2 separate regions of the Homo sapiens genome follow, and region 1 is linked to region 2. Evidence: fine-mapped expression QTL. A gene starts in region 2. The other region holds a variant in brackets. All regions are shown on one strand. Distances are from middle to middle. Region 1 overlaps ANKMY2 (ankyrin repeat and MYND domain containing 2). Region 2 holds the start of ANKMY2 (ankyrin repeat and MYND domain containing 2).

Region 1 (16,449 bases), 31 kb after region 2:
AGGGTGTCACTGCAGGGGGAAAGAACACTAAAGTAGGAATCTGGAGACTTGAACTTTAGTTCATGTGTGCTGATAATTAGTTATAGGATCACGGGCAAATTCCTTTACCTCCATAGGCCTCAGTTTTCTGATCTGTATGCAAAGAAGCAGGGGAATTAGGTGATCTCTGAACTTCTATTTAACTGTACAAGTTTTCATTATATCCACAATGTAACAAAATATTGCTCAGATACAGGTAAAAAAATTTCCCAAGATCACAGGTCTGGAAATGGAGGAGTCTCTTCTTTCAGGCATTAACACAATGCTCCTTTCTTTTTCTTAACACTACAATACTAACAAAATTTTTACTACAGTAAAAATTGTTTGCAATCCTATCCTAAAATAAGAGTAATGTTTTCATTCCATTTTAATATATTTAACTGATTTCACAGACAGAAAATTACATTGCACCCTTCCAGTTGTTACTGTATTTTCCAAATAATTAGCCTTTAAAAAAGCTCATTCTCCCCTTTTTGTTTCCTTCAAGTGGATCAGTATGTATACATGCGTACATACATACATAAGATTTTTGTCATTTTTTAAAAATGCCACCCATCACACAGCAGATATTCCTTGTAGCTTGTTTTCTTCACTTACTAATACATCATGGAAGTTCCTCCCATCTCAGTAGGTGTAATTCATTTCCTTCAACAGCTATATGATACTCCATGATATAGATGTTCCACAGTTCAGTTAGCTCTCCCTTATTGACAGATTTTACAGTTTTTTAACCACTTTTCTACAAATAATGTAATAATCATCCTTGATTTTCTATGTTTTACAAGTTAGTACTTGAATATTTTTTACATGTTAGAACTTTAATATCTCTAAAGTATTTCTTAGAAGTAAAATTGCTGAGACAAAGGATATAGAGTTTTTATTTTTATTTATTTATTTATTTATTTATTTATTTATTTATTCATTTATTTTTGAGATGGAGTCTCGCCCTGTCGCCCAGGCTGGAGTGCAGTGGCCCAACCTCAGCTCATTGCAACCTCCGCCTCCCGGGTTCAAGTGATTCTCCTGCCTCAGCCTCCCAACTAGCTGGGATTATAGGTGTGCGCCACCACGCCTAGCTAATTTTTTTTGTATTTTTAGTAGAGATGGGGTTTCACCATGTTGGTCAGGCTGGTCTTGAACTCCTGACCTTGTGATCTGCCCGCCTCGGCCTCCCAAAGTGCTGGGATTACAGCCACCACGACCAGCCTAGAGTTTTAATTTTAATGTAAGTCTAGATTCCTTTCCAAAAGGGCATAGTAATTCACAGTAATATCCTCATCAGAGCTGAGTATTACCATTCTTTGATTTTTGCCACTCTGATAGTTAAAAAGATGGTACATTGTGAACTTACTTTCCCCTCATTATTTATGAAATTAAGCACTTCTGTTGTTGGTAATTTGTATTTTCACTTTTGTGGATTACCCACTTATACTCTTTATTCATTTTTTTGTGGGGGGATGCCCTTTGTTATTGCTTTGAGGAGCTTTATGCATACAAATCCATTATCTAACAAATGTGTTTCAAATATTTTATGCCAGTCCTCCTCTTCCTCCTCCTCCTCCTTCTTCTTCTTCTTTTTATTCCTCTTCTTCCTCCTCCTCTTCCTCTTCTTCTTCTTCCTTCTTTCTTCTTCTTCTTTTTTAACTTTATGGAGACCTTTACCATAGGAAATTTATTTATTTATTTATTTATTTATTTTTTTGAGATGGAGTCTCACTCTGTCACCCAGGCTGGAGTGCAGTGGCATAATCTCGGCTCACTGCAACCTCCACCTCCTGGGTTCAAACGATTCTCCTGCCTCAGCCTCCCATGTAGCTGGGACTACAGGTATGTGCCACCACACCCAGCTAATTGTTGTATTTTTAGTAGAGATGGGGCTTAGCCATGTTGGCCAGGCTGGTCTCGAACTCTTGACCTTAGGTGATCGTCCCACCTCCCAAAGTCCTTAGGATTACAGGCATGAACCACTGTGCCCGGCAGGAAATTTATTTTTAAGTAGTCATATTTTTTCTTTTATAGCTTCCGTGTTTCTTGTTTTGCTAAAAGTGGGCCTCTTGACCAGGAGTTACATAAGTATTCTCCTAAATATCCTTCAGTTATTTTTTATGATTTTTTTGGTACATCTAGAATTTATTTGTTTAGAGTTCATTTCCCCCCAGATATATAGCTAATTGTGATGGCACCATTTATTACACCAGCTAACATTTTCCTACTAAATTGAAATACCACCTTTGTGGTAAGTTAAATTCTCTTTTACTAAATGATTATATAATTATTTGCAGAGAATTAACATTTGTATGAGGTTAGGACTTTCCATCCAATTACACAGTACACTTTTACATTTCTTTTAGGGGAGGGGACTGACTTTTGGTCTTTCAGTAATATTTAATTGGTTCCTTCATATCAATCCTTTCTTTCAAAATTTATTTCTTAGTAATTTGTGGTTACTGTCCACATGGTAAGAATTTGCACTACCACCTCCACACTCAGTCACTTCCAGCTGGTTATGGATAATAAAGAGAAAAGCTATTGATTTCTGTATTTTTTTCTTATTTTTATTACAGTTTACTGCGTTTTCTAGCTATTAAACTTTATCTTGATTTCTATTTGAATTTGCTTCGGGCCAAGTAAGAAGAAATAATAGTGATAATTGGCATGTCTTTTTCCTGTTTTTAATGAAAATATTTTTAGCTTTTCACTTTTAATATATTGCTATTGGTTTTATCATTGTATAATGTCACTCTTTTTCTTGTTGAATTCTTTTAGTTCTACTTTTACTGATATTACAGCTATTCATAATTCCTTTTTTTGTCAATGATCTGTTTGCTCATCTGTTATTTTCAATCTTTATCATTTCATTTAAGTAGTATAACTTATAAACATATAGGTGGGTTCTGTTTTGTAATCTAAAATGTTAGTTTCCCTCTCTTAACAGGTATTTAGCTTATGTATATTTAATGTAATTACTGATATATGTGGTTGCATTCCTCCTCTTTTACCTCATTTTTACTCTTTATTTTACTTGACTATTGTTTGTGCATGCATCTGTGTGTGTGTGTGTGTGTGTGTGTGTGTGTGTACACATGTATTTCCCTAAAGTGATTGGCTGGTCAAAACTGTACAGTACCACATACCCCATCCCCAAGGCCCCATATTTACCCATTTAGCAACTTTATAAGATGAAATCCTTATACTTCATTTATTTCTCCACATTCTCTGTTTTTGCCTTGTCAGGCCACAGGTCTTTCCTTTCTGCCTTCTCTGATACTTCCTCAAAACCTGTGCCAATCATACCTGTAGCTGTGGACTTTGCTGAGAGAGTCTAGTATTTTTAGCACAAGCTGTAATGAGAGTGTCATTGACAGGGTGTTGCTTCTCTTTCAGTAATCCATACCACCAGCTGTGTGATTTGCCTGTCATCTATCTTCACCCACTCATATGAACTCACTCTCTTACTGTCCTCTCTCTCCTCCCCTTTGTCTCCATTTTTGCATTTTTGTCTTTAGATCTCTGTTCTCATTTAGATTTTGGTTATAGGACCTTTTCAAATGGGTTACGTAGGTTGTATATTCTTTGACACCCATCATGACAAAACTATTAATACCTTTCTTTCTGAAATGTGAGTCATATTTTGCCTAGCTTTCTGACTCATATCAGAGTTCTTTTCTCTCCGACATATAGAAGTTATTCTACAGTTTTCTAAGTTCTGGTTTTGCAAATGAGAATTCAACTTACTTTCCATTGTAAACTTTACATTTCTCATTCTGGAAGAGCATTTGATTTTCAGTTTATCCTTGAAAGTAAAAAATTTGAAAAGGATACGTCTTGTTGTATGTGTGTGTTCCTATTAATCACACTCAGTGAGCCCTGTAAGTCTAGAGGACTCAAATCTAGTGATTGTAATATGGGAGCAAAATGATGTACTGGCTTCTCCACCTGCAGCATTTATTTTCTATATTAGTAGTATTATTTTATTTATGTATATTCAGAATTTATAAATTTAAAACTAGTAAAATATTTAAGAATTTCAATTACAAACATTTAAACCTAAATGATTAAGTATTTACAAAGATAAACTTTAAACATATTATTCAAATATGTTATTAGCAGATTAATTAAAATAAAATATCAAAATAAGCATTACCTAAAATGAAAAACCTTAATCTGGAAAAAAAGGTAAAGTAATACTATTTTTTCTTTTTAAAAAGGTATAATTAGGCCGGGCACAGTAGCTCACGCCTGTAATCCCAGCACTTTGGGAGGCCAAGGCGGGCGGATCACCTGAGGTTGGGAGTTCGAGACCAGCCTGATGAACATGGAGAAACCCCGCCTCTACTAAAAAATACAAAATTAGTTGGGCGTGGTGGCAGGCACCTGTAATCCCAGCTACTCGGGAGGCTGAGGCAGGAGAATCCCTTGAGCCTAGGAGGCGGAGGTTGCGGTGAGCCAAGATCGCGCCATTGCACTCTAGCCTGGGCAAAAAGAGCAAAACTCCATCTCAAAAAAAAAAAAAAAGGTATAATAAAGAAATCCTTAGTCTTGTGACAGTATCTTTGTTATGTAGCAATTATTTTTATGTACAGATATTTCTACCTGCTGCCTGCTTTTCCTAATTGTACTAGTTGGAGGACTGATGAGAAGATACAGTTATAAGCTAATTCCTTATTTTTCTCTGACTCCTTTATCTTCAAGTCTTCATATGTCTGGTTCAGTACTTTTGATGAGCTATTTTGGAACTTTTGTGTGTGTGTGTGGAAACACCTATCTTTTTATTGAAGCTGGATGTAGATTTTGTTTTAAGGAAGCATGTGCGGTTTGTCTTCATCTTCTCTGGTTTCTTCACATACAGTTGTAAATTTCCTCACAATTACTTGGGTTGATTTTGATAACTGTGTTCATAACCCACTTGCATTAGATTTGCTTGGTTGAATGTCATTTTTCTCTCTTGAAGATTCTGGAAGGAGAGGTGATCATTTTCTAAACAGAGCACCTTGGCTCATTTCACATTTTTAATATAGACTGCTACTGTTTGACTTTTCAAGACGTATGTACTGGGGAAAGAAATAAAAGAAATACCCACCTCCCCGAATCCCCCCAAAAAGAAAGAAATTGGGTGTTCTGGTACTTAATAAAAGCATAGAGTACCAAAAATGGTATTGTGATCACTATTAAATTCTCTTTTCAAATCAGGGAAGTTTTCTTTTATCATTTGTTTAATTCTCCATCTATTCCTTTTTTTCCTTTGAGATGTCTGTTAATTTTCACTATTAGATTTCCTGGATTTGTTCTTTAGCTCTTTCATCTGTTGTATAATGATTTCTATATCTGAATTTTTCTGTTTTGAGATATTTCATCCACTCGATCTTTTTTGTTTGTTTTGTTGAAACAGGGTGTCTGTTACCCAGGCTTGAATGCAGTGGTGTGATCAAAACTCACTGCAGCTTTGGCTGGGCATGGTGGCTCACGCCTGTAATCCCAGCACTTTGGGAGGCTAAGGCAGGCAGATCACCTGAGGTCAGGAGTTTGAGACCAGCCTGGCAAACATAGTGAAACCCCATCTGAAAATACAAAATAGATTAGCCAGGTGTGGTGGCACACACCTGTAGTCTCAGCTACTTGGGAAGCTGAGTCAGGAGAATTGCTTGAATCCAGGAGGCAGAGGTTGCAGTGAGCCAAGATCACGTGACTGCACTACAGCCTGGGCAACAGAGCCAGACTCTGTCTCACCCAAAAAAAAAAAAAAAAAAAAAAAACACGCTCACTGTAGCCTCCAACTCCTGGCCCCAAGCAATCCTCCTGCCTTAGTATCCCAAGTAGCTGGGACTACAGGCACATACCACTGTATCCAGCTAATTTTTTAAATTATTTGTAGAAACGGGTTTGTGCTGTGTTACCCAGGCTGGTCTGCACCTCCTGGGCTTAAGCAATCCTCCTGCCTCAGCCTCCCAAAGTGCTGGGATTATAGGCATGAGCCACCATGCCTGCCCTTCATCCTCTGTGTTACTA[G/A]TTTAGTTCTCAATAGTAACCAGGATCACCTCTTTCAGTTTGCCTGTTAATTTTTAAAATTTGAATCTCTCTGCGGCTCTTGAAAGTCTATTTATATATTATAATTGAATCTGCTTAAGTGCATTTATTAGCTGTAGTTGTGGTAGTTATTGTTATGGTAAATGTTACCCACACACTTTCAACCCAAGAAGCCCTCTGTTGGAGGCATGGCGTAGTCTTCAGAATTGCTGGATCCCCATACGTACCTTGTTCTGTACCTCCCAGGAAGTCAGGTAAAGCTGATAGGGTCCTGGATCAGTGGAAGAAGAAAATTTAATGTCTCAATTAAGACATTAATTAATTACTTTAGAAAATTATCACTCTCCTTATAGAATCTTCAAGAAGAGAGAAAAATGACATTCAACCAAGCAAATCTAATGCAAGTGGGTTATGAATACAGCATCAAAATCAACACAGGTAACTGTGGGGAAATTTAGAAATGTGTATGAAGAAACCAGGGAAGATGAAGACAAACTGCATATGCTTCCTTAAAACAAAATCTACATCGAGCTTCAATAAAAAGATAGGTGTTCCCATAAAAAAAAAAAGTTCTAAAATGTCTCATCAAAAGTATTCAACCATTTAATTGAGACATTAAGCTGGTTTGGTCAGCAAACCAGCTGAGGCACAAGGATGAAGCCTGCCACTCCTGGGTTCTCCCAGGAACTTTCAGGGACAAGCAGAGCCCTCTGCCAGCCTCAAGCGCCAGCGTCCAGCTGGCCCACAGTGCCATCCCCACGCAGGTCACCTGTTGTCGGCAGGATCAAGCAGGCGCTCCCAGGACCAAGCACAAGCAGGCAGGGGCCATGCAGGCTACCCAGGGGGAACCACTCTCCGGGAGCGGGGGCCATGGCGTCTGCACGCTCTCCCCAGGCGCGCCTCCGCTGGTCCCCCAGCCCTCATCAGGCAGAGCGGAGGAAGAAGTCTCCTCCGGAGATCCAGGAAGAGCCTGCGCCCGCCCTCCTGTGTGCCCTGTGGCTTCTGCCTGCTTGCCCAGAGTGGCCACTGCTTTGCTCCAGAGAGGTAGTGGAGAGGGAGCTAGGGAGGGGGGGGCGCCGCAGGAGCACACTTGCAAACCAGCAGCTTCGCTAGGGAAGAATTTGCTTTCATAGAACCATTTTTAACTAGAGATGGCTTAGAGAAGTGGCTTGGAATTCTATGCAAAGCCACGATGTGGATTCCAAGCTTATGGGAGCGAAAGCCTTTTCTCTACATTTCACAAAGAGGGCAAGCTTTTCTCAAATTTAGGGGGTAGGGGATAAGGGGGAGGGGGTTTAGTTTAATATTATCATTATAGTAAGAACAATACTTTATATGGAGTAAATTTAAATTTTGTGTAAATACAACTGGATGTGATTAGGGAAACATGAGCATCATTTGCGTAGGCTGGGAAGAAGAGACATTTAACTTACAAGCAACTGTTAGAAAATACTTAAGGTCTCTTACAAGTTGAGCAGTGCTTTCTTTTGTAATCCACATAATCTTCGTATGTATTTTGGATTCTGTGTCTTTCAAAGATTGTTTATCAACTTTACAAGGAATGTTTATAAATGTTCTCTAAAATATTTTATCTCTCCTCCTCCTCCTCTACTCTCCTTTCCTGAAAAATAAAGATATTGGTGCATGTTTACATCACAAAAATAGCAACATAATTAATTTTAAAAACCAGATGTGTTATTTTTAATACTAAAACTACAACTTTTCTATTTTTCTATGAAAAGGTCAACATGATTGTGTGACCATAATCAACAATTTCTTTCCTCGAGAGAGACTGGATTATTACACTAAGCCCCAGGGACTGGATAAAGAGCCAAAACTGCCCCCAAAGTTGGCAGGCCCGCTGCACAAAATTATCACCACAACGAATCTTCATCCTGTCAAGGTAGTGTGGTGTCTACCGTATTTGCTTTTTATGTAAATATTGCTTCAGAGTTTAAACTGCTTTTATTATACAGGATCATAATTGTCTTGGGGTGGGTTTTGTAGTTGTAGAGCTTGCAGTGGGCTCTTTTGGCCTGTTAATTTATTGAAGGAACACTCTCCGTTGAAACCTGGAAGTGAGTGAGCGAGAGAGAAACAGACTAAACCATCAGGAAAAGCCACGCAAAGAGATGGGTTTGCTGAAGCCTAGCTTCCACCTCATCCCACCGGGAGCTCTGGAGTGTGAGTGGCTCCAGAGAGGCAAAGGAATTCTTTTGTATTCATCAGTCTGTTGTTGGGTGGGGCCTGTCTCCAGAGGGAAAGGACAGCCTCCCACATAGTACCAAGTGAGGTGGCTCCCTTTCAATGAGGGTAGTCCTCTGGAGAAAAGACCATAGTAGCTGACCCTGAGAGCCCCGGGGGCCTGGTATACAGGCCTGGTAAAAAGGATGTATGTGGGGGCACTAACAGCATCTATTACAATAATTGTCTTTCTAAGAAAGATTCTGAAATGTAATCATGAGCACATTTTTAAACTAAGTGGCTATTTGATGCCTTTAAATAACATAGTTCTTCCAGTAATTCATCAAATCAGATTTTCAAATTTCATAGGCCAACACATAAGTTCAAATGGCTTAACTGGGAAACTTCAAGAGCTATTCTGAAATATTTCACTGCTATTGTCTTCCAGATTTTAAAAATACAGGCTTTTGCTGTTGTTGTTTACACATAATTTTTTCAAAAAAATCCAGCTAAACAAGTATAATTTCCTCAATAATCATCACAGAAAACTACACAGCTACATGTGTGCTACAGTGATGAGGTCCTATTTCAATTTCAGTATCTATCACATGCTTTTACTCATAAAGATTTGATAGTAGTTCAGAGCTGTTTAAGTGAGCAAGATACTAAGTTGTGTCAAAAGTTAAGGTTCTTCCTTAACATAAGGCGTTACTATCATGTAGTAAAATAGATTTCCCCAGAAGTTTATTACGAAAGAAGAATCTGTGGAGTCTGCTGAGCATCATGAAAATGAGTGGACAGTTCTTATAAGGTGACTCTTCTGAAGACTGACACTCACTCAAAGATATAAGATCCAAAATGTGTATAATCTTATTACTTTGTTGATGCATCCCTGTGCATCTTTCTTGAGTACTTGAAGGTTGAGAAACAAACCAAATTTACTCATTGTGTGTTCCTCCACCCAAATTAATTTTCTAGGCCCTTAAGAGAGATGACAAACTAGTAGATACCTTTCCCATCAGACAGAAGAGTGGAATCTGCTATTTTTATTTTAGAAAACTCAGAGTTTTTCTTAATATTCTGGAAGAACTGCCAGAGGCAACACTTGTGATACTAAGTGGGCAAATTCAGTTGTGAACTGCATACTCATGTTTCTAGTGGAGATTACAGAGGGCTTAGAATTTAACCTTTAAAAAATATGTATTTTCTTCTGTGTTACTGTTTCTCTCCCTCCCAGCATACCTAGGGAAAAGAGAACTCCCAAGAGAAGCATTGACCTCTGTCCATGGCACTCTCTCAGGCATGGGCTGGCTGGGATGGGGAGACAGGTTTCTGTCAGGGTACAGTATTTCTCAATGTAGAGAATGTGTGTGGTTCTGTAAGACTCTTGTTCCTCCACTGCCTGAGCAATACAGGATATTCTGGCTTAGACTGACTTGAAGAAGTTCCCTGTACTTTTCTGATTCACTGTCTTTCATATCTATGTTTCTGCCTCTTCAGATTGCAGTAAGGGTTTGTGGAATTTTTTTTTTTTTTTTTTTTGAGATAGGGTCTTGCTCTGTCGCCCAGCCTGGAGTGCAGTGGTACAGATCTCGGCCTTCCAGGTTAAAGCGATTCTCCTGCCTCAGCCTCCTGAGTAGCTGGGATTACAGGTGCCCACCACCACGCCTGGCTAATTTTTGTATTTTGGGTAGAGATGGGGTTTCTCCATGTTGGCCAGGCTTATGGAATAATTTTTTATGTTTACTTGGAACCCAGTCTTTCAGGGTTAAATGTCCTAATAATTATTAATACTCTACCTTCAGTTATCTTTGAAGGTATATATTTTAAGTAAATTAGATTGAGGGCATAATTATGCAGACAATAATTTGTAAAGGTATATAGTCTGAAATAGACTACATAATATTTTTTGGAGTATGAAGGGGGCTATCCTATTATATACCTTCCTCCAGACCAGACCTTGCTTTTTGTAGGTATAAACAATCTATTCGCTCGAAACCTTTTCTTTTATCCACCCTTGGGATCTAAAAGCCACCCAGTTGCTTTTGTTACTGTGGCCCATTTTTATTGCTCTACCCCCTTTTTAAGCTAGCATGGCATTTCCTATGGAGTATTATTTAAAAACTAATAACCACTGTGTAATGTTAAACAGCTTTTAAAACAACCTCGGAAATTCTCCCCAATACACACCTCACTTTTCATTACAGTGCACCTAATATAGCTGTATTTGTGTCTAGATTAAGTGGCTGCCGTAGCAATAAGGATGCATTTGTTTTCAAAAGGGATTTGGAGGATTGTGCTGATGCCCAGAATATGAAGGTTATCTAGGAGAAAAACAAAATCACAGAAAAAAATGTCAGCAGAGCAGGGTCTCTAAGTGTACAGGAGGCAGATGTGCACAGAACAATCATGTCTTTGATTATTGTGATTTTCAAGCCCAGTATTGTAGATTTAGCAGTTTTTAAAAATAGGATTTAAAAAATAAAAAGAATTCAAAATGCCACTACATAAACATATTCTCAGGTAGCAATCCTTTGAATGGTAAAAATTTATCTAGTTTTTAATGCCAATAGAAATATATTTATTTGCTCCTCCTCATTAATTAATAAAAAGGATTTCCTTTATAATATATTACTTCATAATGCTGCAGAGATTAAGGAAGGAAACAAGTACAAATATTATTCTTTTGTGTGCAGCTATGTAGTTGTTTCAATAAGCGCATGTTAATGATGTGGTTATTTGTCATTTTTCTTGGTGTATATTTGTGCTGTGTATTAAAACATAGATAAGGTCTGATGTCTCCAAACAAAAAATTATTAATCTGGGCTCTGTTTGAAATTTTTTGAAAGAATTCTCACTTGTAAGTTTAAGATTCTATAGTTGATTATAAATGCCATATATAAAAATACTGATCAAACAACTTTAAATGATTACAATTAGCAGAAGTATAAACAGATAATTAATGAGTCTTTTCTTCTCCACCATAAATTGTCAAAGTATGTTTTGGTAGAGAGAGTTATCAATAAGGATTCTGATTATACTTACTTCATTAAGTCTAATAACTTATTATTAAGTGCTGGATTTTTGTAAAACACTAGATTGTGTATAAATCTAATAAATGTCAAAAAGTGAAATTCGTTTAATTTTACAAGGACATTTAATCTGTGTTAAATTTCTAATTAGAGGGCTAGCTATGGGCTTTACTAATAGATGATCTTTTTTCATGCCTAAAGAAAAGAATCTAATTCAGGAAATCTACCTGTTGTTCCCTGACATGTATAGTCCCTGGGATATTGATTTAGCTGTAACAGGTAGGTTAGCAAGTACTGACTGGCTGTCTGCTCTGTGCATACAGTTGTGTCCCTGTTACATTTGTTGTGGTCTTTGTGCTCCTTAGTTCAGCTAGATCCAAGTTCTTGTCTTACAACCAGGAAGAATTAGACAGGTGGACACTGGAGAGTGAGTGGAGTAAAATTTATTAAGTGAAAGGAAAGCTCTCAGCAAATAGGAGACGCAGTGCAGGGTGGTTCCCCTACCCAAAGGCGGGAAAGTGCCCCATGTGCCTGGGTCCAGGTCCTTTTATGGACTCAGAAAGGGGAGTGCATGCTGATTGGTTTGTGAGTATGTAAAAAAGGTTAAAGTGAAGACACCACTCAATGGTGGGCACAACAGTGTAGAAAACCAGTTAGGAAAGGGTAGGTGTATGTAAAATAGGTGAAGGGTGGGGATCAATCAGAAGAAATTGAGTCAAACAGGAAGACAAGTTCTCAATCCGGTTCAAGGATTTAATTTGTAGCTTGGCTTTCAGGCTTTAAACTGTCTTTGGCTTGGAAGTGGGGCTTCACCAAGGACCCACCCCTATTCTCTCTAGGCATTTGGCTGCCTCCTGCCACTCTCACATTCATGTTTACATTACTGTTATGCCACCATGGATATTTACAGCAGTCCTTTGCAGACCTACTTCAAATAATCTACCCTACAACAAAGCTAATACAAAAATACTCCATATTACACTAAATTTGAGCATAATCTGTGCATACATAGGAAATGTGGGACTCATAACGTGTAAGATTTGATCATTCTAATATTTCCCCTTTAAAGTTATTTATGGCTTCCTCTTTGACCTGTTCTCATTACTGTAGATGATTGGAAGCATCTTCAGGAAAATTTCCATAGAGAAATATAGTTAATTGGAAAGTAAAGCATATTTCATTTTTAGACTTCATTCTGAAAAAATCTCATTTTCTTGTGCTTAATAAGAATTAATGAGAATTGTAGTTCTCCTAGCCATGAAATTCTAGAGCTGAGTAATGTTAACTAAAAGTGGTTATTGCTCAATGATTTGATTCTTTATGTAAAATGTACAAATTTGTCATGTTTATCTTTAGTAAAAGTGAATTTAACAGAGACTGTAAAATCATGTGCTCTTGAATGGCATACTGGCACTGTGGTGTAGGTAGATGGAAGATCACATTATAACTTTGATATACAGAGTTCAAGAGATTCCACTATTTCAGGGTCTTTCTATATTAGTTCTATAAGTTCTGGGTAATTTGCATTCTAACAAATAACATAATAACTTCATGATCCTAAGGAAGGCTTTCTTTGGTAATCTTTTGAAATCAACTAAATGGACTACCTAATTTGTACATGAACAAGTGTCTCCTTTAATACCTGAGTACACTGGGATTTCCTCTAGATCGTGATGCTTGTAAATGAGAATCCTCTGCTGACAGAAGAAGCAGCCCTGAATAAATGCTACAGAGTGATGGATTTGATTTGTGAGAAATGTATGAAGCAAAGAGACATGAATGAAGTATTGGCTATGAAGATGCATTACATAAGCTGTATCTTTCAGAAATGCATTAACTTCTTAAAAGATGGAGAGAATAAACTGGACACCTTGATCAAAAGGTACTCTTTTTACTATGTCGTTTATAAAATACACTCAAGTGAATATTTTTTTTAATATGAAGCCTCATTATTATGTGTTTCAAAATTAAACATTTTGGCAGCAATTGCTGTTGTTGGACTCACATTTAGTCTTTGACAAACAGAGAATAATATTATACTTATATTGAGTGATTATTCAGTTCTGTATCCTTTACTGTGATGTTTTTGTTGTTACCAGCAATTTACAGATGAGGAATCTGAGGTTTGGAGAGGTTAAATAACATGTGTAAGATCACACCGCGAGAAAGTGGCCCAAGTCCAAATTTGAGAATATTTTATGCCCTAGGTCGCAGCCCTAGGTTTGTAATGGCATCCAGGGTGTCTCTGTTACTGTATCTTGGAGAGCTGTGTGTTATGCTGCTTCTCTGACCACCAGAGATCAAATTCTCTTGCATCCTTACCTAGAAAAGGGAACTAAGTCTGAAGGGTGTGGCTCTATGAGAGTTTTCATTCTTAGTACAAATAACTGACATGGTAATAAGTAACTAGCTAATCTGATAACAGTGTTTAGTGTGTTTTATGGTGGTAGTCACCTTTGCATATTCATTTAATGGGCTGGAAAACCTTATAAGGCCTAGCCTAACATATAGGTTGAACAGCAATTTGAACTGAGCCCGTCATCATGATTTGAAGAGACAAAGAAAATCATAAGTAACAGAAGAAACTACTAAAAACTGTTGGGTTCAACTAGGAGAGAATGCTTAGTGATTCAACTCCAATTACGCTTTAAAAAATATCTTTCAGCTTGTTAAAAGGCCGAGCTTCTGATGGCTTTCCAGTGTATCAAGAAAAGATCATTAGAGAAAGTATCAGAAAATTTCCTTACTGTGAAGCTACACTCCTCCAGCAGCTGGTTCGAAGCATTGCTCCTGTTGAAATTGTAAGGCTCCTCTTACCTAAGTTGACTCTATCAGTAAAACCTAATTCCCACCTATTGTATTGTTAAAGGCAAGTTCTCTTTAATATTTATTTTTATTATTTCAGAATATTTTTAGGAACAAAGGTGGAGATAGGTTTGCCTGCCAAACCTGTTCCTGTTTATTTATTTCCCATCTCACGATCCTCTTCTTACCTTATTATGGTTCATAGTTTCATAAACAGGACGTCGCTATGTTGAAATGTAGATGGTTAGGGTAGAAACTTACATTTTAAGTACATCCACTATGTAATATAGGTACACACATGTACACTTGTAGCTATATGAATTATCAGCACAAAGTCATACACTAGATGCAAGTATGAATTGATCACCTAGGGGGATAGTGTCCAGGCAGTGGGGATGTAGTGGGATAAGCCATGGGAAGGCTCATTGTGGTTCCTGGTAACAATCTCAAAGTATGCCTCAGCTTCCTATAATCCACCTTAATGCCTCTGATTAGAAAATGTCCATACTTACAACCTATTTATACTTACCCACTATATAAGTGTATTTTGTTAACTTTATCTGTTATTTAAATGACTTACTATTCATTTGTCATATATTTTAATTTATTTGGCCTTTTCTATTTTGCGACAGAGTCTGTTTCTGTCGCCTAGGCTGGAGTGCAGTGGCACAATCTCAGCTCACTGCAACCTCCATTTCCCAGGTTCAAGCGATTCTCCTGCTTCAGCCTCCTGAGTGGCTGGGACTATAGGTGCGCGCCACCACGCCCAGCTAATTTTTGTATTTTTAGTAGAGATGGGATTTCACCATGTTGACCAGGTTGGTCTCGAACTCCTGACTCAGGTGATCTACCCACCTCGGCTTCCCAAAGTGCTGGGATTACAGGCATGACCCACTGCGCCCAGCCACCTTTTCTATTTTGAATAGGTTTTTGTTTACCCTATCTATACCCATTCATGCTTTTATACGTTTCAATCAAAAACTTGATCAGCTTTTGTCTATCAGGCAAGAAATTGATCCTAAGACCAGTCCCATCCATGGCTTCCTCCCTCCCTCTGGCAAATCTGGTTCCCTTCTCTGTGCCTTCTCTCTGGGTTGTTATGTCATTCTCAGTGTGGAACATCAGGGCTTCAAGTGGGCTCCAGATGCTCCTTTGTACATTAAGAATTCACCTAGTCTGAGCCATAAAATAAACAAGAAAGACCTGAGCAGAAAAGACCATCTCATAAAGCTCATGCATTAATTTGTTCATGTGTGCTCCCCCTATTTTCAAGAGTTTCTTTACTCATACTTTTTAATATAGTTGGCTATTTAGTGTTTATGCTTTTGGAAGAATAAAGTTAGCAAATTATGATTTGTCAATTACAAATGTGTCTTGGCAGCACATATCAAAGCCCAACCAACCATGAATTAAATAGATGAGGGTTTATGTATTCACATATACATAGATGCCCAAAGGTAGGCAGACTAGGTCTGGCATAGTGACTTAAAAATAGTTTGGGGACCCAAACACTTTCTCATCTTTCCCTTCCAATATTCCTTAGCTGTGTAGGTTCTCATATGCATACTTATGATCTCATGGTTACGAGGCATTTGATGTTCCTCCTCCAGCTCACATTCCTATCCCAGGCAGGCAGGAAGAGCAAAGGGGTCTATATCTGGAAAACATAAGCTCTCCCAGAAGCCCTCTGCCTGTGTCACATGACTTTCCTTAGCTACACAGGAGTCCAGGAAAATTTTTTTTTTTGGCTTTTCTAAACACTCCTCCTCTGAACAAAATTACACTTCTGTTACTGAGGAAGCTGGGAGAATTGATATCAGAGAAGCAACTAGCAGTACCTGTTATGTGGGATTTCCAGCACTCACAAATGGTTGCTGACCTTTTACCTTCCTGGGAAAAAACAGAAAAACTAAAACAGCAACCCAGAGTTCTTTAAAAAAAAAAAAAAAAAAAAAAAGCAGGTCAATATTGTGGTCAACAAGTTATCCTAGCTCCATATAATAGAATAATGTAATTAGAGTTTATAGAGTATAATTATTATTATTTTTATTTATTTATTGAGGGGGGTCTTGTTTTGTTACCCAGGCTGGAGTGCAGTGGCGCAATCTCAGCTCATTACAACCTCAGTCTTCCGGGTTCAAGCGATTCTCATGTCTCAGCCTCCCGAGTAGCTGGGACTACAGGCACACACCACCATGCCCGACTAATGTTTCTGCATTTTTAGTAAAGACGGGTTTTCACCATGTTGGCCAGGCTGATCTTGAACTCCTGACCTCAAGTGATCTGCCCGCCTTGGCCTCCCAAAGTGCTGAGATTACAGGCGTGAGCCACCGTACCCGGCCTAGAGTATAATGATTAATGTTTA
Region 2 (16,449 bases):
CCAGCTACTTGGGAGGCTGAGGCATGAGAATCACTTGAACCCTGGAGGCAGAGGTTGCAGTGAGCCAAGATCATGCCACTGTATCACAGCCTGGCTGACAGAGCAAGACTCCGTCTCATAAATAAATAAATATCATCCGTTTTTTTTTGGGGGGGGGGGGTTATATACAGAAAAAAATTAAAATTAAATTCTACCATCTTTTCTCATATTATGCTAAAATACAATTTAAAAATGATTTGCATTTGGACTTGGAGTTATATAACTTGATTCAGTGATATTCTCTGAATCTTTATTTTAAAAGTCATCTGTTCCATTGCATCACTTTAGGAAAAGCAGAAACTCTTATAGAGAAGGAAATGTCCTTGAAATTTGTTAATAATATTATAATTTTAAGCTTAGAAAAAAGCAAGATGGTCTCTATATTATTATTATTACTTTTTGAGACAGAGTCTTACTCTGTCACCCAGGCTGGAGTGTAGTGGCACAATCTCAGCTCACTGCAAACTCTGCCTCCCTTGGATTCTCGTGCCTCAGTCTCCCAAGTAATTAATTTTTGTATTTTTTTTTTTTTTTTTTTTTTTTTTTTGTAGAGATGGGGTTTTGCCATGTTGGCCAGGCTGGTCTCGAACTCCTGGCCTCAAGTGATCTGCCCACCTTGGCCACCCAAAGCGATGGGATTACAGGCATGAGTCACCATGCCCAGCCAGTCTCTATATTATTTTAACTAGTGATTTAAAACTTTAAAGTAATAACACACTGATGGCAAAAACAAAACAAAATCAAACAAACAAAAAACCCCAACACAGTACAGAAGGGTAGTGCTCTTCCCAATCTTTCACTCTTGACCTTATATCCTAGCCCCACTCCATGGAGATGATAATAATTTAAACCCTTTAACATCATCCTATGTAACCTTTTAGAAAATGCCTATGCATTCGAGATTTTCACCTCCACTGAAGACAAAAGTAATATTTATTATTAATGAGTATTCTCATCTCCAATGTTCCTTCCTCCAGAAAAGTGCTTTTTCACTGGAAGATACCTAAATACATGTTGAGCTTTACATAGTAGAGGAGAAAGATGATTTTATATGAGATTTACTTTCCACCTAGAGGAAAGGAGCTATGGACAGCACACACAACACTGGCCTTGCTAACTGAGGTGAGGAGAACCAGGAGATGAAAATCAGCAAGAAGTGGAGTGGCAATGCCAGAGAGCAAGTTAGTTTAAGACAGACACAAAACTGATGGGAGTGTTGGTGACTATTACTCCAGTGGGAAGTCAGAAGACAAGTTATTAAAGTAAAAGAGTGTTGAAGTGTTTGCCTCTCTTCAGAGGATTTTTAATCATGGAAAAGAGGAAAATAAAATCTTCAGAAAAAAAAGAAATAAAAAGAAAAGTAAGGCCTAGACTGGTAGACAGTGAGAGAATTCTGTTTTGGAGCAATTGCTTAAAAATCGTAATAGTGGACCTTCAGGAAGCTCAAAGGTGGTGGTGGGCATGAGTCCAAATATTGGCTCACTTACTAGTTCTCTCAACCAAGAAACTCCCATCCTCCCAGAAGGGGACCTGCCCAAGCCTGTCTAGCAGGTGAAGCTTTATTTGAAGGGCTACACACACACACACACACACACAAAGTTACTTTCCATATGCATGCTTATTACATAATGAGAGCATGAACTGGATAGAAATGCCAAGCCTAGTCTAGGGCACGCTGATGACATGGGACTGGATTCCCCAACACAACTTTACAGAAGTGGACCATACAAAATTGAATTAAAGGAAATAAAAAAGAACTAGTACAGAGCTACAAGCTCTCTGAATCATACATTTTAAAAAGGTTTAAGCCAGGTATGGTGGCTCATGCCTGTAATCCCAGCACTTTGGGAAGCCAAGGCGGGCGAATCACCTGAGGTCAGGTGTTCGAAACCAGCCTGGCCAACATGGTGAAACCCCGTCTGTACTAAAAATACAAAAATTAGCCAGGCATGGTGGCAGGCGCCTGTAATCCCAGCTACTCGGTAGGCTGAGGCAGGAGAATCACTTGAACCCAGGAGACAGAGGTTACAGTCAGCCAGTCAGCCGAGATCACACCATCGCACTCCAGACTGGGCAACAACAGCGAAACTCCGTCTCAAAAGAAAAAGGTTTAAACCTACAGAGAATCATTCATTTATTTGTTTGCCAAATATACCAGGTCTGGTACTAGTCAATAGGGATGCAGCAAGCACTAAATCAGGCAAATTTCATGGAGGTCACTTTCTAGCAGGTGGAGCTTTGTTCCAAGTATTGCACAATCGGGCAGAACAAGTTAGCAAGCACTGATTGTCTCCAGTATGTTTAAAGACAACATATGATGCATTCGAGATGCAGTTGTGTTTATTAACGTTTTAATAATTAAGTGCGTGTTTTTTTACTTTGTAACTTACAAGTGGCATCCACGCGGAATGGAATACTTTGAAAACCATGGATGTAAGCCCAGTCCCTAAGCTAACCTTCAGATAAGGCACTGAGATGTCAAACCACTTGGCTGAGGTCAGGAATTCCATTCTAGCATTGGTAAGACAGTGGAGATCAAAGCAGAACGATCCCTGCCCATCTGGAGCTTATGTACATGGAAGAGTTGGGGCCAGAACCTGATCCACTGTCTCCACTCAGTGCATTTTCCAAGGAGCCAACTAAAGCTGTTGCAATGTCTTAGAGAATTATTTATATGATTCTCGAAGACAGCTTTTTCATTATTTGCCTCATAAATTTTATAGTTTGGAATAAGATGGAGTAGCGCATAAATATTAATTTAAAGTTGAGTTCAGCACTTGGATAAATTGAATTAGCATATGTTACTTCCAAAATACCAAAGAGTTCTCCATAGAGTTCTATTAAGCGGTGGGGGGGAAAAGGCATTTATCTTTAGAGAGAGAATTTAACAATATTGCCTCTTAGGGACATACGAATATTAGAAAATTTATGGCACCATAATTTCTAGCACTATAGGATACAGTTTTTAAATTGTTTCCTGCAGAAGCTCAACTCTAACACAAACACAATCTTCACACTCCCAAATACTAACACCGCATCCTTTTCCTCCAGCCAGCAGTTTCCTCTGCACCGACAACTAGGGGTTCTCTTTCCTGTTTATAATAGTCCCATTCAATTACCTTGTTCACTGAGAAAAACATATAACATTTCTTTTTTCTTCTTAGAAATGACCATAAATCCAGGTTAGTTTGAAAACCATTAAAGTCTTCTGTGTGGATATATAAAAAGGATGACAGTAGAATATCATCCAATAGTAGCTTATGATATATTCTCTACAGTGCTAAACGTTATTATCCCTTATTATTCATCTCTGCCCCAGGGCTTTTCTTGAGATTTATTTAGAAGTCCTCAAAAATAACAGTACACCTGTTATATTTTTTAAAGTTCTCATCTAGCATAAAAATAAGTTGAGATGTAAAAAGAAAATATAATGCTACATCTGACACAAAAAATAATTCTACATCTTAAGTTATTGTTTTCCTACTAAAATATTAATATTTTCAGAATGGAATTAAAGATAGCCAAAGGATTATACTATCTTAAATATTAATACAGGGCATTATTCTTTCTTTTTGTCATTATACTTTTTTCCTTTAATTTTTGAATAAACTTAAAAAACATCAATGGAAACACCTATTGCTAAAAATCAAGAAAGAATAATGAGAACATTATCTTTTTGGCATTTAACCTTAAAGAATGGTTCATTCAATGAGTTATTCAAATCTTTATTTTCAAAATAGATAGTTTACAAATATGACTACCTGAACAATTTTGGCACTCTTCACTTAATACACGCCAAATTTAGAACGGGGCAAATCATTCCACTCGGCACCTAACTGCCCAAAAGATACTTGCTAAAGAGCGCCATGGCCTCAATACACAGAAATGAGTGAGTTAAGAATGAAAAGTATTCTTGTTTATGACCTGCTAAGATTGGTGGATTTCATATTAATTAAATATTCTTGTAAAATCCCAAAGTCTAGGATGACATGTTATAAAGGACATTTAATATATCTAAAACACAATAAAAAATTGTAAAGATCAAAAAATCAGTTTAAAAAATTGCACAAATTAGAAAGTAGGTGTCAGATTAAGTATTCAGCTAAGCAAACACTGAGTAAGAACCTACCAGTCACACCCTGTCCTGGGCCTGCTCCTGATTTTCCTAGACTAATACTTATCCTATCAGTGCTGACATTGCTCGAAACAGTTTTGGTACTCTTTTTTTTTGGAATGCCTTCTGAGTTGGATTATGACGCACAGAAGAACATCAGTATCTCCACTTCATTCACCTCTTGATTTTCTCAGTTAAACTAAATGTATCTGTACCCCTTCTTCAGAATTTTCTTTTCAAAAAAGATGAAGATTAACTACCAGTAAGATATTCATCAATTTGTTCTACAAGCACTGAGTAATGCCACCAACCTTTTACTTTTTGGAGAAGTTAAAATGTGATGTCAAATGTTTATGGAAACGCATTGTTCACAAGACAGTTCTTTGCAGATTTAGGTGTAACTGTTTTAACACTTAAATGAATAATCACATAAGCGAAACTCCAAGTATAGAAAAAAGAACATTTGTATTTATATTACTTTCTTATGTTGTGTTTAAAAAAAAAAGATTTCTTAGAGGCTGTAATACTTCCAAATTTTCTTTTTAAAAACTTCATTATGGAAAATCTCAAATATATCCAAAAGTAGAGAGAACAGTATAATCAAGTGAATATACTCATCACCCATCTTCAACTGTTAACATAGTCAATTTTATCTCATTTATATTCTCATTCAGTCTCTCTTCCTTTCTGTCACAGAATTATATTAAAGCAAATCTCAGCTGTCTTCTCATCCAGTTCTGAAATAATTCTGTTCCTATCTCTAAAAGATAAGTAATCTTTTAAAAATATAACCGTAATCTACTTCCAACTTAAAAAAATCAAAATTTCTTATTATCAAATATCCAGTCAATAAAGATACCTAAGTCTAAGGAAAAAAAGTCAAATGTCAAGACAAACAGTACCCTGAAAGATGTAATACTCAAAAATGCAACAAAAAGGCAGCATTCTCCTAATGTAGAGAGCTGGAAATCAGGGTCTTTAATGGGGAAATCTAAGAATGGCATGCCAAATTTGTAACATGTGCACAAGAACAATTTTTCTTGGTTGATAGCATTCATCAGAATGTCAAGAAGCTTGAGATCCAAAACATTTAAAGACTTTCTGCCTCTGGTTATGATTGTGCGTGCTTAGTGCCACCTCACCTCACATTGCCAGGAAGGATTAGTCAAGTAGGAAAACAAATCCACCTAAAATAACTTAGAAATCAAACTGAATTCAACTCAGCTTGTACTGAGCATACACTAGGTGCAAGACACTGGGTTAAACCTGAGAAACAAAGATAAATTTGACCTAGTTAATGTATACTGTAGAATGAGAAGGGACCAAACAGATTAATAATAACTATAATAGAATGCGATGAGAAAGTGCTTGTTTTAGGTATTTTCATGGAGATTCAGATGAAGAAGCAATGATGTCAATTTAGGGGGGCGGTAAAAGAGGGGTCGCTAGAATCCATAAGAAGAGAGAATTAAAGGCTGCCAGCAATGATACCAGTAGCCATGTTGCATATCAATATCCTCCATGTACAAAGATTTTACTTATAACCCTTGCCAAGAGACATGAATAAATGTATTTACTAGCATGTATATTTCCCTTACTGGATAGAGAGGGAGAGATGAACACAAAAGCTGAAGAAAAGAGGTTTTGTTTAAATTGTGTCTGGAAAGTTGAATAGTTCATCAGATCTGGAGAGGAGATTCAGTGAAAAGGGAAGGGAAATCATTCAGAGGAGGAGAAAAGCAGGAACAAAGGGGTGGAAATTACCGGCAGGTTGGGGAACAAGCAGAGTGGTGACCTTAGAGCCCAGTGTGTGGGAGGGCCCAGATGACTGGAAATGCCTGCTGAGACCATGGATGGATTGGAACCTTCCAGGCCAGACCCAGCCCTCTATTCTGTGGCCAGCAGAGAGCCATTCAAAGAATGATGGGTGCTCAATGTTTATTGAACTGGTAGTTCCCTGAATTAGCTAGATGGAGACAGGTGAGAGAGAAGCAGGCTACTTAAGATGCATTGCAATAGCTCTAGAGTGGTAGATATGAGAGGACACATACAACATTTCAAACATTTCAGAAATCATTATTCCAATTCTGACTTGACACTTCCTAATATGGGATTGTGGGCAAATTATTTCCCTTACTTTCTGTCCTCTTATTTGCAAAGTGGGTATAATATTGGCTCATTCCTGGGTTGTCATAACACTAGAATAATTCTATGCAAAGCATCTGGTAGAATATCTAGCACAGACTAAATACTCAATATGAAGTAGCTATCTTATTATCAATAAAACTTCTTTGATGTGAATCTGTTTTAATATGCTCATTATCTAATCTTATCCCTACATTAAATATTTACACCATACAAAACTACTAATGTAATCAATCCATCTAATGAACAGTACCCATTATGAATCTGTTTCTAGAAATGTAAACTGAACATGATTTATTTGCATTTCTAGGTAGATGTTAGATTCTCTTTCAACGTTATTGTCTCTAAATTCACTGGTCATGTATTCAGAGAGCACTAAATACCAACCAAGTGTCATAAGGCATCAAGAAAATAGATAGTAAGCTGCTATCCTCGAGGAACTGACAACCCCAGTGAGACAAACAGGTGTGACCTTCAAGTAACCATGGCCCAGATTTGGCACAAGAGATGGAAATACTAGCAATGAAGTACCCAATTATGTGTATGCATCTGCTGGTAAGATGCTAAATCACATGTTCCAGGAGGTTACCACTCAACTGTTTTTTTAGGTTTGTGGGTTTCTTCCGCATGATACTATGTTATAAATCAATTGTAACTCTGAACTAACAGCATTACAAAAGATTGGTCACTCTCAGGAGCCTTACTACTTGCTTGAACAGCCACATCATTATTAAAGCATCATCCAACAAAAGTATCTTTGTTATACACTGAGATGAATAATTTCAAACCATTTTCATGTAAGATGTTCTGGCTCAGATCTGTCCCAGTCTTTAATGCTGAAGCTTTAGGGGGGAAAAACAGCTGGAGTTTAGGAAAGATTTTTGCTAAAGGCAGGAAATAATGATAAACATATTCCAGGAGATTTCAGATGTTAGTGAAAGCTTCACGCAAAATAAATGCCTAAGGCCAGAGGAAAATGCATTTCGCTTTTCGTATGGCGCTATGAGAAGAAACAGTGGTCCTGGGGATGCTTAACAAAAACCACCTACATAATTACTCAAATATTTCTCTTTGACACATACACGTCTCTTTGACACACATATTGAGAGAAACATCAATACTACTCTGTAGGGAAACAACAGTAAAACATAAACACTAATTTCCAAAGAAACTTTCATTGATGATGTAAATATAAATCTGCACCCTGGAGAAATGACTGATTCCCGCATTTTAGCAAGCAAATCTTATTCTGAAATACACACTTGTATTTACCCCCATCTACCTATGGTCGAAGCTCCAGGCTACATATTACAGTTGAATGAAGGTTGGATTAAGAGGCTAATCTAAGGCTATATATAGGCAGCAACACCAATTTAATCTCCGCCCTCTCCAACCTCCCCACCCTCCACTCCCTATTTCCATAAATCTCAAGATCTGAGTTACAAAGAGAACCGAGAACTCTAGCAGAGCAAAGAAGCCCTTCCTTCCCCCTCCCACAGGCTGTCTCTCATAAACGAAGTATTAGTGCAAGTGTAAATTGTTTCCAAACATCTTTAACAAGCAACATTGGGCGATCAGGTTTTCTTCTACAGCTTCCACAGAGGCCAAAGAGATGACAAGTAGTGGGGAGGGCGAGGATCACCAGCGTAAAAACTACCTTCTCCCGAGTCTGTTCTCACTGACTCGCTAGTAATGGGGCGCTGTCCTTGCGACCCCTACCTAGCCCAGAGCCCCGGCCCCAGCCTCCCCGGGAGCCGCATCTGGCGGTGCCACGCACGAGACCATGTGCACCCGCCACTTCCCACCGCGTGGCTGGCCCCCGCCCGCCCGCCCGCGGTCCCAGGGTCTCCCGAGGCGGCCAAACGTTGCGAGTCGGAGGTCTTCATCCCAGGGCACTGATACCCCGTACGCGCCGTGATGATGAGGTGGAGCGGGGGCTTCTCCACCGCGAGGCAGGAAGCCGCCCCAGGAGGCACATGCTTCCTCCCCGCCAGCTCCTGCCCGATGGAAACCCCGGCGGGGCGGCAGTCGCTACTCTCGCAACCCTCACGGCGCCCCTTGCCTCACCTGGGCTGCTTCTCACCTGTCCGAGGAGGTAGCGACGACGCGCAAGGCTGGGGGCTGCGGCGATTCGTGCAGCAGCAGCGGCAGCAGCAGCAGCAGCAGCAGTGGCGGCAGACAATGGAGGAGTGAAGGACAGACACATTGACATAGACACACGGAACCCGGCGCAGCCCCGCCTCCCGTACCGCCCCCGTCTCCTAGACCGCCCCCGCCCAGACTGCGCCACTCCCGGGGGAATGGTGGGGGTACGGCGACAACCTGGGGCCTCTGCATGCCCCAGAAAGCCGTCGCTGAGCACATAACTGCCAGCTGTAGAATTTTCAATATTACATGTGGCGAAATATTTGAACCGGACAGGATAGGGGAGCGGAACGTGTAGGAGGAATTTAATTCCCCCCTCCAGCTTTCTGCATTTGGTTTTGTCCTCCCAGGTTGCTCCAATGGCGATCTCTCGCTACCGCCTCCTGCGGCTCCTCCTCCTCGGCAGGGCCAATGACAGGCGGCAGGCGGTGACCGCCGCAGGGCCTGCGGAGACCGTCCGCCTGGCTCGCCCGAGCTCGCCCGCTGTCCGCCAGCCCGCGGGAGGGAGGAGAGAAGCGAAGCGTTTCCGCGGTTGGCTACTCAGTGTCTTGGTCTCAAGTTGCCTCATTGCGGCTGGCGTTCCCAATACAGACGCATCGTTTCTTTTTTAATACTCCCTAAGAAAGGGAATAACCTTCAAGCTGGCGGGAGCAATGGTTCACATAAAGAAAGGCGAGCTGACCCAGGAGGAGAAGGAGCTACTGGAAGTCATCGGGAAAGGTACGGGTGCTGGGCTGCGACGCGGCCGCGGCCAGCCTGGCCGGGGGGCGTGGCGGAGCCCGGGGGGCGCTCCTGGCCTGGGTGACCTTTGGCTGCGGTTCTGCAAGGTTTGCAGCCTGGAACCGGGAAAGAGCGTTTCTCCCTTTGGTCTGGGAAAGGTTGCAGGGGCGGAGAGGTGGGGAGGCAGAAGCAGTGCTGGGACAAGAGGGGTAGTTACAGAGGCTCGGCCTCTAAATCCGCTTTTGGAAACGTACGGATTTCCACGCCCCGCCTTAGGTTAATGCGAGCTTCCCGGGGTGTGGACCCCAGTGTGTGAATTCTTCACTGCTCCCGAGGGATTTTGACCGCGGTCAGTCCTGGTAGTTTCAGGTTCTTAGGCGGGTGTCTAAATGACCCTTTAGACTTCCGCAGGCCGAATGATCTGGATCCTTTGCCGATCCCCGCCCCCGCTTGGGAGTGGAGGGCGCCCTTAGGGAGAGGGGTTCTTCATAAGGGTACAGAACTAGGTCTGTAATTTGCTGCATTGAGACTTCCGTATCCAGGGCCTCCCTGGCTTCCAGAAGCCCCGACAGCCTCAGGAACCCTAGAGAGACAAGGAAATTGGCGAGGCCTCCACACCCACCCCTCGGCCCACGTTGCACAGATGAGACCTTCTAATCGCGCTCCTTCGCGCTTTCTTGTCCACTCCCCCAAGGCGTGCCCCACTTCCGCAGTGCTGAGTCCCAGCGGGGAGCCCCGAGGACGAGCCAGAAGCCATATTTCCCCGGAGTCCCCGAGTGGACGTCCCAGAGGAGTTCCCTGCCGAGTCCCGTTACCTGGCAGGTGACATCAGCGTGACTGCATGCTTCTTCTGCACCCTCACGGTGCAGGGATGGTGATGCGTGCGACTCCGGGCAATTAATGTGGTGATTTTAAACTCAATAATAATATAGCCATGTTTGTCCTCGAATGGCAGAGATGCCAGTCATTGCAGCATAAGGCTTCCCAGTTTCCAGTTTTATTTACTTAGTAGCCAGGCTGAAATGTGGAATCCTAGAGAATAAGGCAGATTTATTCTTCATAGCGACAAGGAAACTCCACATGCGAAGGAGAAAAAATTCCGGTTTGAACTCAACAGGTGCTGATGAGCTGAGCCCACCCGATCTGATCTCAACTATTCTAAGTCAGTCACAGCTATATCTATCAATGATGTGTTCTTTGCCTGGAATTTGGGGATTTGGGTTAGAGTTTAGATTGTTGTACTGCATGGTTCTTGCTGACCTATTTGGCATTTCAGTCTTTCAGTTCTTCCTGTCTCTAGGTAATTTCTCCCTGCCTTTGATGGCTCTGGGATTCAATTAAGCAAACATGCAAGTTCTAGCTGTGTGCCAGGTACTGTGCTGGGCAAAAAGGAGACAAAGGATCAATTCACAATCCACCAGGGACAAAAATTCTTTTAGGCAGGACAGAGCTAGTACATGTCCTCTCTCTCTCTCGCTCTCGCTGTCTCTTTCTCTCTCTCTCTCGTTTGTTTGAGACAGGATCTCACTCTTCACCCAGGCTGGAGTTGCAGCTCTCTGCAGCCTCCACCTCCCTAGTGGCTGGGACTACAGGTGCGAGCCACCATGCCCGGCTACTTTAGAAAGATTTTTTTTTTTTTTTTGTAGAGATGGGGTGGTGGGGGTCTCCCTATGTTGCCCAGGCTGCTCTCGAACTCCTGGGCTCAAGTGATCCTCCTGCCTCGGCCTCCCTAAGTGCTGGGATTACAGGCATGAGCCACTGGGCCTGGCCCATCATGTGATCTCTTAAAAGTGAAAAATAGTGAGCAGTTTTATAAATTGAGTCTTTGAGAGGGGAGAAGGGATTCCTTGGATACATTCTCAGGTGTCCATCAGTATTTATTTTGAAGATTATATAAACCTGAATTAATGTGCATTTATTCTGGTTAGTGCTGTGATATTTCTGGGCTCACACGGTGCATCAAGTTGCATGAGTGCACTGATGCTTTCATCGCTTTCATTGGACCATGCCAATGAGAAAAGAACTGATGTGGACCTAGTATGTGATGCATTCTTGTCAAATGAAGGTCTGTGGGACATCACTTGCACTCATAAAGAAAAGTAATGGGAGATATGAGAAAAACAACCATAGCCAACGTTTATTGACTGTTATTGCAAGCCACACATAATTTTAAGTACTTTACATATATTAATGCATTTAATTTGGATGAGCTAGGAATTAATTTTAAGCTATGACAGTATGAGAGACAGCATGGGATAGTGGTTAACCATGCAGGTCTGGTTTGAAATTCTAACTCATTTACTGGTGATGTGGCCTTTGGGCAAGTGACTTTTCCTGAGCCTCAAGTCCTCTGTGTGAAAAATAGGAATAATAATAATACCCACCTCACAACGTTGTTATGGGGATGAAAGTAGTTAGTATAGTTAAAGCATTCGAAATACTGCTTGTGTTTGTGATAAATATAGTAATCTTCACTTTATAGGCAAGGCAACTGAGGAACTGGGAAGTTAGGAAACTTAGTGTCAAACAGGTAAGTGGCAGAAAGTGGCAGAGCAGAGGTATCACAGGGCCCATAGGTAATAAACAGGCTGTACCTAAAAACAAACTAAACAAAACATGAAACAGTACCATAGCAGTCCATACAATATTCACTTTGAGAGGTCATTTAGTTCTAGCAAAACAACATCTGTCAAGTTAACTCAGTTTTAAATGTTACTGATTTTGTAGTTCTGTGTGCATTAAATTTAAAGTAAATTTTTATTTTATAGTTGAAGAAAGGCCATAAGCAAAGTTTATATTTGTGCCAAAAAGAGGCATTTTTTTTAAAGTGGGTGAAGTGAGTTTTTTTTTTTTTCTTTCATACGTTTTTCAACTTTGAAAAACTCTAGATGAGACAATAAGTTCTAGTACTTTGAACTAACAACTTTTCAGCAAAGTCTAGCCTGGCATCTTGGTCAATCTGAAATAAACTCGGCAAATATTTAAGTGATTCCCATCTGCCAGCCACTGCTCTCCAGAAAGACAGACTCTAAGTGGGGCTTTTTATTTATTAGAATGCCAAGAAGTTCCAGATGAAAATGAAAATCTGTTTCCAACATACCCATTTAAATCATAGTTAATGACAGCATTCATTTAACAGTATGTAAGAGGAAATTGAAATCACTGAACTGTGTTTAACTGGCTTATATGACTTGTAGAGTTACCCATTCTTCTAAGCTTTGATACCTTTTTCATTAATCTCAGAGCAAGCACTATTATGAAATAAATTAAACCTTTTTTAAGGCTATGAGCTAGATAATTTTCACATTACTTCTCTTATTTAGTACCTGAAATTCCTGGGCTTACTGTTGCTAACAAGAAAGTATTATACTTCCTTTTTTTTTTTCATATCTGTGTAAAGGAGCTATGAAACAAGTTTGGATAATAAGGCTTTTTCTTACCAACTATTGAGATACAATAAATTGCACATATTACAGGTAGTACACACTTTTTAATCAGTTTTGATTTAAACATACATCTGTGAAACCATCAGTAAGATCAACATAATGAACATCTTCATCACCCCCTAAAAAGTCCTTATGCCTCTTTGTGATCTGTCACTAACTTCACCCCCATCTGCAGGCAACCACTAACAGATCTCTGCCTCTGTTGATTAGATTTCTCTATTCTAGAATTTTATATTAGTAGAATCATACAATAAGTATCCTTTTTTTGAGGGGGGGCTGGCTTCTTTCATTCAACATTATGATTTTGGGGTTCATATTTATTATGTGTACCAATAGTATGTAGCTTATTTTCTTCTTTTATTTCCAGTGGAAGGATATACTACTATTTGTGCATCCATTCCCATTGATGCCCAATTGTTGTTTCCAATTTGGGACTATTGAAATAAGATCCTGTTCTAAGGTCCTGTGTCGTTAATAATACTTCTGGTGTCTTTATGGTTGAGAAACATTCAAGTCTGCTTATAACCAATTATAGTACAGAGTTCAAAGAAAAAATTAAAATATATGGTTACCATTAGTTGGATGGCTGGACAGGTTATGCAACCTATATGGGCTTCATTGTCTTCATTTTCACAGCAACAGCTCTTTTAGATACTCCCAATTTTATACAGTGCTCTGTAATACTAATTTAAGATCATTTTTTTACAAAGTCTAAAAATAGATATGAGTAGGAGACCTTTTAGAAACATCGCACAAATTCACGATTTCAAAATGCATGTTATAATTAGAAGTCTCCACTATGTGTGTGTGTGTGTGTGTCTGTGTGTGAGACAGGGTCTCACCCTGTCACCCAGGCTGGAATGCAATGGTGCGCTCTCGGCTCACTGCAACCTCTGCCTCCCAAGTTCAAGCAATTCTCCTGCCTCAGCCTACTGAGTAGCTGGGATTACAGGCGTGCACCACCGCGCCCGGCTAATTTTTGTCTTTTTAGTAGAGATGGGGTTTCACTTTTAAAATATATTTATAGCTTTATATCTATGATTATATCAAAATCTATATCCATATGTTCTTGTTTTAAAATTAAGGCACTTTAAACATTTTTACATGATTTTACTTATACGTAAACACTATAACAACTAACAAAGCCAAATAGATTTCTAAATCCTTAACTTGATTATATATTCCTTAAAATATCCGTTTTCGTGGCTTCCAATAAATAATGATTGCAATCCAGCTGGACATAGTGGCTCATGCCTGTAGAGTGACCCCTCTGCACTTTGGGAGGATCCAAGAGGATCACTTGGACCCAGGAGTTTGCCACCAGCCTGGGTCTCAATATAGTGAGACCCCGTTGTTACAAAAAATGTAAAAATTAGCTGGGTGCGGTGGCGTGCACCTGTAGTCCTAGCACCTCAAGAGTCTGAGGCAGGAGGATTGCTTGAACCCAGGAATTCAAGGCTGCAGTGAGCCATGATCATGCCACTGCACTCCAGCTTGGGCGATGGAGGAAGGCCCTGTATCTATAAAAAATTAAAACAATAATAATGAATAACGATTGAAATCTATACGTGTTTGAATCTCATGGTTGTGTGATGAATTGCTGAAAACAGAATGTTTGTTTCTCCTGTTCTGTTTGTTTTGGCTGCATCTTCTTGTCTTTGGTAGAGACCCGTGTTCCCGATCTAGATATTAGAAATGTTACAATGAATTATATTGTGCTGCTCTGAATACAAAATAAAAAGAAGATCTAATAAAGGCTTATATGTGCTCCACATTAGGACACTCCTCAGATAACTGTGGGATGGATATTGTTATCCTTATTTCATAGATAAGGAAACTGAGAGTTTTACAGGTCTTTTTATTTACTTTTATTTATTTATTTACTTATTTTTTTGAGACAGAGTCTCGCTCTTGTCGCCCAAGCTGGAGTGCAGTGGCGCGATCTTGACTCACTGCAACCTCCTCCTCCTGGGTTCAAGCAATTCTCCTGTCTCAACCTCCTGAGTAGCTAGGACTACGAGCACGCACCACTACACCTGGCTAATTTTTGTATTTTTTTTTTTAGTAGAGATGGGGTTTCACCATGTTGGCCAGGCTGGTCTCAAACTCCTGACCTCAGGTGATCCATCCGCCTTGGCCTCCCAAAGTGCTGTGATTACAGGTGTGAGCCACCATGCCTGGCCAAGTTTTGCAGGTCTTGTTCCACTTTATAGTATTCCTGAAAAAGCTATAATGTAGTAGAAGAGAGAGCAGTAACACTAAGAATATCATTCTCTTTTGAGACAGGGTCTCACTTTATTGCCTAGGCTGGATTACAGTGGCATGATCATAGCTCACTGCAGCCTCAACTTCCTGGGCTCAAGCAATCCTCCCACCTCAGCCTCCTGAGTAGCTGGGACTACAGGTCCATGCCACCACACCTTGCTAATTTTTTAGAAAATTTTTTGTAGAGATGGGGTCTCACTATGTTGTCCATGCTGGGAAAATATTATGTACATAATCTTTTCTCTCCTAAAATGCTTGTTCATCCAGATAAAGTGATCAATTCCACCCTAATGAGGCAGGTTATGCTGTATTTTCTTCTTTGGTTTGAGCAGTTGGAGGAATTCTCTAAAGGGAAATAAATCACTAATTATTACTTTAATTAGTTTAGGTCTGTTGTTTCTTATCTCCAATGAAGGTAAATGTTGGCTCCTTGCACATCCCTTCTTATAGTACTCTATCTTCCACCCCCAGCAGTTTGTTAAATCAGATTTAACATATTTATTTCCCAGAATAAAGCAATTAATCTTTTACACTTACTTGTAAAATATTATTTAAGTCTACTATGGACAGTAGGAATGACATAAAGTAAAAATCCTTCTGTGTGAGCCATGTGTTTCACATTTCCATGCTATTCTGGACCTTCTATAATTTCCGACTAATGTCATTACATTGTGAACACCGAATTGGAAATCATCACAGTTTTTCCTCTTGGAGTGTTTTGCTCATCCATGTTCCAAATCTATTTTTACCCTCTAGAAGCCCAATCTGTTTCAGATTATTTTTCTCATTCCAGCCCCTGCATTTCAAAAGGCTAACCTTAGTGTGATTGTGGGTACGTGTACATGTAGGATATAATAAGAAATATCTATTTGGTCTCTGCCACTGGCTCCTAACACAGAGCTCCTAAAACCCTTATAATCTCCTGAACAATGGGGTGCTAGGTGCATCTATTGTTCTAATATTTGGTCTTTGACCCTGGTACCTGACACAGAGTTTCTAATCCCTTGGAATTTCCTGGGCGTTAGAAATGTCTTTTGTTCTAATGAGGCGACTGTTGGATAGCTTCAGGATGGGGGCTGGTCATGAGAAAGTCCAAGCCATGATTAGAAGGTTGAATTTTTCAACTCCACCCCTCCCCGCATCTTCAGGAAAGGGAGAGGAGCTGAAGACTGACTTAATAATAGGTCACACCTATGTAATCAAGCTTGCATAAATATTACTGAACTACAGGTTGCAGAGAGCTTCCAGATTGCTGAACTCGTGGAAGTTCTTGGAAGAATGAGTGCCTGGAAAGAGCATGGAATCTCTGTGCCAAGTGCCACATACCTTGCTCTTTGCCCCTCTTCCATCTGGCTGTTCATCTTTGTCCTTTGTAATATTATTTGTAATTGATGGGTAAATGTAAGTAGTGTTTCCCTGAGTTCTGTGAGCTGTCCTAGCAAATTATGGAACCTGAGGAGGGGATCATGGGAACCCTGATTTATAGCCAGTCAGAAGTACAGGGGCTTATGATTGGCATCTGAAGTGGGGACGGTCTTGTGGACTGAGCCCTTGACCTGTAAGATCTGACTAACT

What was found. PIP is the estimated chance that this variant, and not a neighbour inherited with it, causes the effect.
Region 1: its variant is fine-mapped to the expression of ANKMY2 in whole blood (INTERVAL, PIP above 0.99).

Annotation. Positions count from the first base shown.
Region 1 is chr7:16,607,261-16,623,709 of GRCh38, reverse strand. It overlaps ANKMY2 (ankyrin repeat and MYND domain containing 2), which reads left to right. Exons shown (of 10, transcript NM_020319.3): 5 at 7,806-7,966; 6 at 12,947-13,161; 7 at 13,945-14,080. It overlaps LOC105375169 (a long non-coding RNA gene), which reads right to left. Exons shown (of 5, transcript XR_007060226.1): 2 at 10,438-10,571; 3 at 7,531-7,684; 4 at 6,291-6,334. Among named protein-coding and RNA genes, the nearest start is that of ANKMY2, 30 kb to the left of the region's middle. The variant G/A (reference allele first, on the strand shown) is at 6,046.
Region 2 is chr7:16,638,221-16,654,669 of GRCh38, reverse strand. ANKMY2 (ankyrin repeat and MYND domain containing 2) reads left to right here and starts at 8,916. Exons shown (of 10, transcript NM_020319.3): 1 at 8,916-9,163. The coding sequence starts at 9,097. It overlaps BZW2 (basic leucine zipper and W2 domains 2), which reads right to left and starts at 8,489. Exons shown (of 12, transcript NM_014038.3): 1 at 8,382-8,489. RefSeq lists enhancers at 5,804-6,315, 8,510-8,789.